Linked DNA regions of Homo sapiens: region 2 is linked to region 1. Evidence: fine-mapped expression QTL. A gene starts in region 1. The other region holds a variant in brackets. All regions are shown on one strand. Distances are between the middles of the regions.

Region 1 (4,405 bases):
TCAGAGCAATTCCCTCTCCCTCCCCAGCTGCCGGCACCCGCACCCTCCCCCCCATCCCCCGCCCAGCACTTTGGGTACCCAATGTGCAGAGGCGGTGACTATTTATCGGGTGTTATCGGAACCCATGATGTGATGGAATCGATGGGTAACCCGGAGGCTGCCCTGAGCTTCCAGATGACGGTAAATGTTGTCTCGGCAATGAAGTCTCTGTTATTTCTTGAACTAAAACCCCTTACGTTCTGGACCTGGGCTGTGTCCTAAAGGCTATCTCACCTTTTTCCTTTTCTTTAGCTCAGGATAGCGCGTCTAAAGGACAGGGAGGGCTCCAAAAGTTAGGGAATATTGAGCCATGGGGCCCCAGTTTTTTCCGTGTCCTGCTGGGAGCGCCCAGAGCCATTTGTTTGTCCAGAGGGAGGACAAGAAGCCCTTTCTCCCTGCTGTGCCCCCTTCCCACTTCCTCCTCCCCACTGCTGGATCTTACAGCTCACTAATTTTTTCAGATCTAAGATTAAGTATTCCAATATGGAAGCAAAACTATCTTCCCTAGAACAAATAATTAAAACGCTGCATCATTCATTTTCTGAAGAGCTTTGAGCCGTCTATAGAGCCTTTTCTAATCTGCTGTCGTCAGGCGAAACGCACAATGGTCTGTTTAGAAACGGAAAATTATTAAAAGCTCAAGCCTTTTTCCTTCTACCTCTTACAACACCAGCGAGCATTCCACTGGGGGAGGGGTCCTTCGCTCCGCCACCTGGCCTATTTGTTGGAGTTACTTACGATGTCTTCACCCAGAAAAGAGGTCCGAGGGTATGTTAGTCTCCGGTACCCCTCCTTCCACCAACGTCCTTACACCTAACTGATCCAATTCAAAACTGCAACAAACCCCTAGCACCTGTGAGCGTACAGAATACACCGCGGCCAAACTCGATGTGCTCTACAATGCACATCCTACATACGAGAAATACTGGTTTCAATTAGGCGAAGTAGGAAAGGATGGCGGCGAGTACCTATGGTGCAGAGCGCTCAGGATCTCCGAGGTTTGCTGCGAGGGGCTACCCAGCAGGAGGGGCAAACTCTCTGCGAAGCTGAATTGTATCCATCATACTGTAGCCTTGTAGCTTCTCCTCTTCTGGCCACCAACTTTCCGAAAGGCTACCGAATCACGCTTGTAATCCGTTTAAATGTTTCCACCTTTGAGACTTGCAGGGAAATGGTCGCTGCATACCAATGGGAGAGCGGGGCGCGCACCTAGCGCGGCGATGCCAGCGACAGGGAGCTCACGACCACAGCTCCCTATGCCCTCGATGGTTGGTAGGCAGGCAGGCAGAGTGAGTGTCCCAGGACTAGGTTCCTTTGATTTAAAATCTCGGTGCTCTGGATCAGTGGAGAGCTTCGTTGTTCCCGAGAGCCTGAGCTCAGTCTCTGGATTTCTCTCTTTCTCTCTTCCTCAAAGGTTGTCACTCACAGCGCAATCCCTGCCCGAGGCCTCCTTCCATCCGAGAAGATGGAATTAGCCCTTGCTTTTCCAGGGTGTCTTTGCTCTTTGCCCTTTAGGTGGGTGGGAGTGGGGGTTGGTGGCGTGTAGATGAGAGAAGAAAAGGGTGGGGAGAGGCGGAAAGGAGGCAGGAAGGGGGCGACTAGATCTCAGATCCCAGCATTGGTCAGACGGCGAAGGTGGGGGGAAAGAAGGAGAGGGGGAGAGAAGATACAAATACACAGTATGGCTGTGCACACCAAATTCCACTTGGATTTGGGAGATCTCAGGCAAAGCACGAAGGTGAAGCGATACCGTTGGCAGAGAGTGAGTCCTCTGACCGCTCACCATTCAAGCACCCTCACTTCTCGAGCGGGAGAAGGTGCGGGGGAGGGGGGTGGGAGGGGGAGGGGACTGCTGAACGTTTCAGGCCAAGGAGACGCTCGCGGCGGCGGCGGCGGCGGCATCTTTTAAGACTGACCTGCTTTAAAAGTGCCACTTTAATGGCCTAGGAAATAACTAAAATCGGATTACACGTTACTTACCAACGTCTCCTCCTAAACTGGAGCGCCAGGTCGTGTATAAGGAGTCAATATAGGAAACGCAGGGCTGGAACCTGAATGCAAATCCATCAGCCGCCCCCAAATCGCGCACCAAGGGAGCGGCGCTCGGGAGCCCCCAGATCAGCCCATCGCCGGAGCTCCGCCAGCGCGTCCCCCCCGCACCCCCGGCCCCTCCTCCGCGCCAACTGTGTAAATCAGCCGCCGCAGTCCTCTCGCCGCGCATCGCAGGCAAAATCCCGGCTTAGGAAGCAAGGAAGCAAGTGATCTCTCTCTCTCTCTCTCTCTCTGTCTCTCTCTCTCTCTCTCTCTCTCTCTCTCCTCTCTCTGTCTCTCTCTCTCTCGCTCTCTCTCTCGCTCTCGCTCTCGCTCTCTCTCTCTCGCTTTCGCTGTCCGCCTTTCCCTCTCCCCCATTATCGGTCACAACCTGGCAGCTCTTCAAGAGACACCCTGTGAAATTGAGTGTCGGGAAGTCAGCATTCTGTACCCGTGGATTGATTTGTAACTTTTATTTGCAAATGAGAGAGATGCCTGTTTGGAAAATTACAGCCCAAAAGGTGGAGGGTGATCAAATTAAGAACATCTGAGCTGTATTGGTGGGCGGTATCGCTAAACGCCTCCGGGGAGCGGTTTCCAAGTGATTTGCAGTAATCCCCCACCTTCATGATACATGGGTGACGATTTGAAAGTACACATATTTCCTCATCTGTTTACATTTGCCGGGGGCGGGGGGCATAAAACTGTAGGGCACAGGGAGTTGGGAGGGGGGCATTTGCCTGAGAGATGCTGGATACCATTTCGCGATAAATTAGATACGGACACTGGAACAATTAATACGTGTAATAACACGTATGTGAAAGTATTATTACAACATTACAGAGGCGACCATTACCCCCACTGCAGTCATACTAATGCAGTCATTCGTTTAATGCTCCATTCAATCTGCAGTGTAAACCAACGCAATTCTTTTTAATAGATCCCTTTCATCAGAGACTGTGTTGGAAAGAGGGCAGTCTTCCACTAACTCCCAAAGTGAATAGAAGGTAGCCTGGGGAATCATCTCTGTATCTCTTGCCATTTCTTCCTGAAGAGAATGCAATACATTGTCCAAGGAAGGCAAAGTTATTTAGCTATTATAATTGTAGGTAGAATGATCTTGAACCTATTTTCAAAAGCATTCAAAGAACTCTAACTCACCCTTTGCAAAGAAACAGTACTCTCTTTTAATTTATGCATAAAATCCTTCGATAGACAGGCCTGGATATATGTTTTACATCTTTATTTAGTGAATTTTGTATATACTATAATTTATACCATCGTTAGTTCATATTATTGACATATAATACCACAAGTTAGTGTCCGTATTACCTACATTAAAAGATAGGAAAGGATGGAGTTGGTCACAGAGACAGCCAGGGGCCTGTGGAATTTTTTGGGATATATACATATACACACACTCTAAATTTAGTATGGCAACTGTGTTGGTTCTGCATAAAATGAATTTAGATTATATATATATACGTGTATACGTGTGTGTATATATCATACTTACAATGTTTTCATTTGTTCTTTAAAATACTCAGCATTCTTCAAGATTATTAAGATTAGTAAAATATCTACAGGGACCCAGAAAGTAATAAAAAGCACCATGTATTAAAATGGATTCTTTTTAAATATAGCATTTCAGACTCACTGGCATGAATTCCAAACCTCTTTCCAGTATTTTCTAGGATAATAAATTCTTCCATGTGAATTTTACATACAGGAAGACATAGATATACAAAGAAAATTTGTCATAGGTGTTTCACTCACTGGGTCGCCAAATTGGGCTTCAAAGTGGTATATCTAGGCAGGGTTGCCAAAGGAGTACATCCCCATAATGAATCAGTCAGATTTAGGAAAAACCAAACTGCATCAGTAGTTTGATGTGTCACAGAGATATTTTTGGCCTTTTCAGGTGGTTGCCCAATTTGAGGAGACTCACTCCTGGATACACCATATTTTATGTGGGCAAGTGTGAAATCACACACATGCCCTTTGAGCCTCAGGGCTGGAGGATATTAAAGTAACCCTGAAAGACATTGGGCAACATCACTCCTAAAGTTACTGAATCTCTTTAACTTTTTGGAACTATTTTCAAGGTCATTTTGATGAGAGAGTTCTGAATATATTAATTTGTTTACTCTGAGCAGATGTTAGTGTGGCCTGATGGTACTGGGGAGCTGCAGAAGATTGAATAGCTAGAATAGGTTGTTAGTGTTAAACATGAGTACTACCCATACAAATATTACAGGCCAGATAAAAATATTGTAGAGTAAGTGATTATGATGGATATTTGATTTTATGTTGTGACTTTTTAGTGCTTTGCATA
Region 2 (4,405 bases), 89 kb after region 1:
TATTAGAAACAATTAAAATACGTAAACCTTACTTTAGTATTTGTTTATTTTTGGACTAAAAGAATAGTTTCTCAAATAAATTTTCTTCTCTTACACTACCATCATCTTATATGAGCACGGATATTGAGGTGTTTATCTCTTTCTAAATTTGAGGATAAAGGGACTTCTTGCTGGTTCTCCAGTGCGTAAAGACAGACACGTGCTGCTCTCCAGGGAAACATTTTTTTTTTTCTTCTGCTTACAACACACCCTTCAGGTAGATTCACGTGATCTTTTTTTGATATGCATATACAGGGACTCTCAGCCTGCTCAATGCTGACTCAACTTCTCTTCAGCTTTCTTGAGCTATCAGCTACCATGATCCATCCTGCAGTCTGAAAGAAGTCCCCTCACTACATCGTGATATATATCATGGTGGTTCCTCTGGTTTTCAATTTACTTCCAATCCATATTTGAAATTAAATCATCCTGGAAAGATAAATCCCAAAGCCTCCTTTCCCGTGATCACATTTTGCTCTTGACTATTTATAAGATATACTGCAAAGTTCCCTCCTGCCAGTGGTTGAAATAGGTAGTTGCGGGGGAGCCTTGCTGTTGATGCTCTTTTACAACAAAATATTTCTTCTTCTTTTTATAATTTTCCAGGATTCAAAAATGGGTGAAATTTTCCTTTACTTCAAAATTGTTGCCTCTTTCTTCCTGAGTCAAGTTAGGTCATAATGGTGAACACAGAAAAAGGTTTTTAAAGAATGACTCTGCAGGCCTGTCCTTGGTGTGTTACATCAGAACTAAAAAACAAATTCAGGTTAATTCTTTCTTAAGACAGTAGCCAGGCTTGCAATTTCCATATGTATGTCTGCATTCATGTTACAAAACAAAACAGAACAGAACAAAACAAAACAAAACAGTATAAAAGAAAGACAAAATAGAAATATCTCAAGATACTTAGCCCCTGGATGATGAGATAATAGATCATGGTAAGTATAGATTGTGTGTATATATTATGTATTTACTCATTATACACACACACACACACACACACACATGCATGCACACAGACACATGTATACCTCTTTTTTATTTTTCATACTTTGCATTAATTTTGTGGTCAGAAAAAATGACTTTAAAACATCTCTTTGTTTTTAGAAATACCACTAAGGTGATTTTTTCCAGAATCCCTCTAATGCCGATAACATAGAAAAGAAAATGGAACAAAGAAAAAATAAGATATGATGAGGATTATTCGGTCATAGTTGAGAAGAACATTTTTATGACAAAACAATAACTTACGGATGTAAGTTATGAACATTACTGTGTATGACATTTTTTAAAAATGTGTTATTTTTTTCTCTCCACAACATGGTAATGCCTGATTGAAGCACTATAGCAGTTAGCTGACCTTATATAACAGTGGGATTGTTTATATGAACAAGACATAAGAAACTTATTTAAGTGGAGCAAAAAAAGATAAACTTTAATCAGAACACAAGAGATTTTTTTTCAGCATCTTTCTAAAATCCTTTTATAATCTCTAAATAAAGGGAATGGACCAATGATCTCTCAGGCCCTTTCCTAAAATGTTATGTGATAGCATAAAACCCGACTTCCTAATAAAGGATAATGCTGCATTGAATCAGGCCAAAGCGATTTACTGATACAAAAATATGAGAAACCCCTATTAATCAGCAGAGTAAGGGAGTTTATGACTGGCTTATGGCTTATTTTCTTTTTTTCAGAATAACAAAAACAAAGTAGAATTGAATCTGAGTTAAAATAATGATGTTAAAATAATATTGTCAACATGAAACCAAAGCTTTCAGTATTTCAATTTTAACGTAAGATTAAATTGCACATTTGGATAACATGTGTTTGCTTATATTTATGAAATTAGGTTTTAAATATAATCAATGCTAGGAGCAAATTTTTTCATTGTTTTATTTTTCCATATCTCATAGCATTCATTAGGGTGAACTAGGTGGAGCTTGATAGCTCTAGTTTATTGCAATGACACTTTATTTATCAGGAAGCACATTTTCTGGCTGACTCAAATGTCTACAACCCTGCCATAAACCCCAAATATGCGGGAAATTGTCCTTAAACCATTTTATATCCTAGTTGCATACACACACACATTGTGTTGATGAGTAAACTTATATACAGTATATGTAATATAAATGTTAATATGTTATATAGTATTAGATATAACATTTGTTTATATTTATATGTATGAAACTTAATGCTCATTTGTTTGGAAGAAATGATCTA[A/C]AATCCATAATTCACTCAAAGTTGTTAGTCCTCAGTAAAGGATAGATGTGGAAAAAAAAAGAAAAAGTGGGTTGGGTAAGATATTTTACAAGCAAAAAATAAAAGGAGATGACAGGCTGATAATAAGAAAGGGGTGGATGACTATAAAAAAACAAACACAAAAGCAAAAAGCTTATTGACTTGAGGGCACTGAAATATACAAGAAAATCATTCTTATATACCTACCTTAATGCCAAATGAGGAATTGTTGCATTAAACCTTAGTATAATAATTGAGGACCATAATGATGCTGATTAAGAAACCATTGAAGTTTATAATATTTTTAAAGGTTCTCTCAGATATTATTAAATAATCTCACCTTTAGCTCGTAGATGGATATTTGTCAATTGTCTGAAAGATACACTTCTGTTGAACGAGCTCATGATTTTGTAACAAATTATAAATAATGCTGTATTATAGTGCTTTTGAAGTGCATTCCCATCAATACAGAGGCAGAATTATCTATTAGGTTCCATAGAGTCAGCTGAAGTTGGTTTAAAGGTTTTTTTTATATTTAAAATTATTTGTTATTGTTTATTTTTAGTAAGAGAGAAGATTTTAAAATTCTGAGAATATCTCTTTGGATGGTAGTTGTTTTGTAATCTAAAAGATCATTTAAAAATCCTGCAATTTGTAACCCCTTGTTGGATCATAGCTACTGTAAGTTTGTAATTCAAAAGTGATAGCTATAAGAGAATCAGGAAAAGTATATTACAAAAACTTTGCTGTAATTATTATACACTTTTGCATATATTCTAAAAAAAGAAAAAACGCAAATATTTAAATAAGTAAAGGATTCTGTTTAATTATTTTTCCCTTTTATATGGAGAACTGTTAGGAACAGACTTAGGTGCTGAGAAGGGGCAGGAACACTTTTATAAGAAGTTGTATGAAGCTGATTGGTAGATCCAGACAGCTTTTTGTTGAGTGACGCAAAAATTTAGATCAAGTATGGACAGCTGTAAATAGTAGCTAGAGGACATTTGGCAGCCAAGGAATGGTGCTAAACATTGGCTATGGAACCAATAGTATTGAGTAATTAGCAATAACAGAGAAGGTAAATGAGAAAACTATCAGAAATTTAGGGGCAATTCATGGGATATTTGGAAAATGTGCTGAATATGTATAAAGGAACTGGAATGAAATAAAAAGTTTCTTCTGAGACCTATACTTCTGAGTGCCTAGCAGAACATATTTGAATAAAAATATCATGCAATTTAAGTTTTAAAAACTTTACTTTGCTCACAATGACTTTTTGCAATACCTGAAAATATGATTCCAATATGGAATATAATAATGTAATCTTTCTTGGTATTATTAACAAAATATACTAATGATGCCTTCAAATATTAGTTCCAGGGTATTAATTCAGTAAGGCAGTTTGCCAGGGCATAATTAAAAAGTCAAATTCTAATTGTTGCAATAGGGACCCTCTTAATAGTGCCATAATTAGAATCACCATTTTCTTATAATCTGGCAAATTCTGTCATTCATTAATAAAAATAGTATTTTAATTTAATTATACAAATGACTTTTTTTCATAGTTACATTCCTTCATATAGAGTAATGATTCTCTTCATTTTAAAAAACATATGTAAGTTTCTGTTTTTTCAACTTAAAATCCCAAACCTAGACTTTATGCACACTATTGTACATTCACAATAGCAGAAAATTGGCAATTGTTGGGCTAGTTCAATGTTTCCTTCCAATTTATCCATTACCTAACAATAATGCTATTGCATCGTCCTTTTGTTTCATCTATTTCTAATTATTTGAATAACTAGACTGTAAACTCCATGACTATGTTTTAAAATTAGCTAGGACTATGTTTTAAAATTAATCATATAGCAGAGAACTTGGCATGTAGTAGATATTCATTATATACTTATCTAGTGATTAAAAGAATGAATGAATGAGTGGGTTTTCCCTTCTTTTCCCAATTCATTTGGCTGAAACTTGAGTACTCTGCCTAATTCTATTCACTGCCATTCCTGACTGGTTCCTGAAAGCTAATGCTGACTGAAACAACATATCCCAGAATAATGACTTCTCATTTCACCATAATGATCTATTTTCCTGAGTAATAATTCTAGAACCCTTC

What was found.
Region 2: its variant is fine-mapped to the expression of SLITRK3 in esophagus muscle (GTEx, PIP 0.94).

The regions. Positions count from the first base shown.
Region 1 is chr3:165,194,573-165,198,977 of GRCh38, forward strand. SLITRK3 (SLIT and NTRK like family member 3) reads right to left here and starts at 1,812. Exons shown (of 2, transcript NM_001318810.2): 1 at 1,008-1,812.
Region 2 is chr3:165,283,231-165,287,635 of GRCh38, forward strand. All of the region lies in intron 2 of LINC01322 (long intergenic non-protein coding RNA 1322), which reads left to right. Among named protein-coding and RNA genes, the nearest start is that of LINC01322, 78 kb to the left of the region's middle. The variant A/C (reference allele first, on the strand shown) is at 2,266.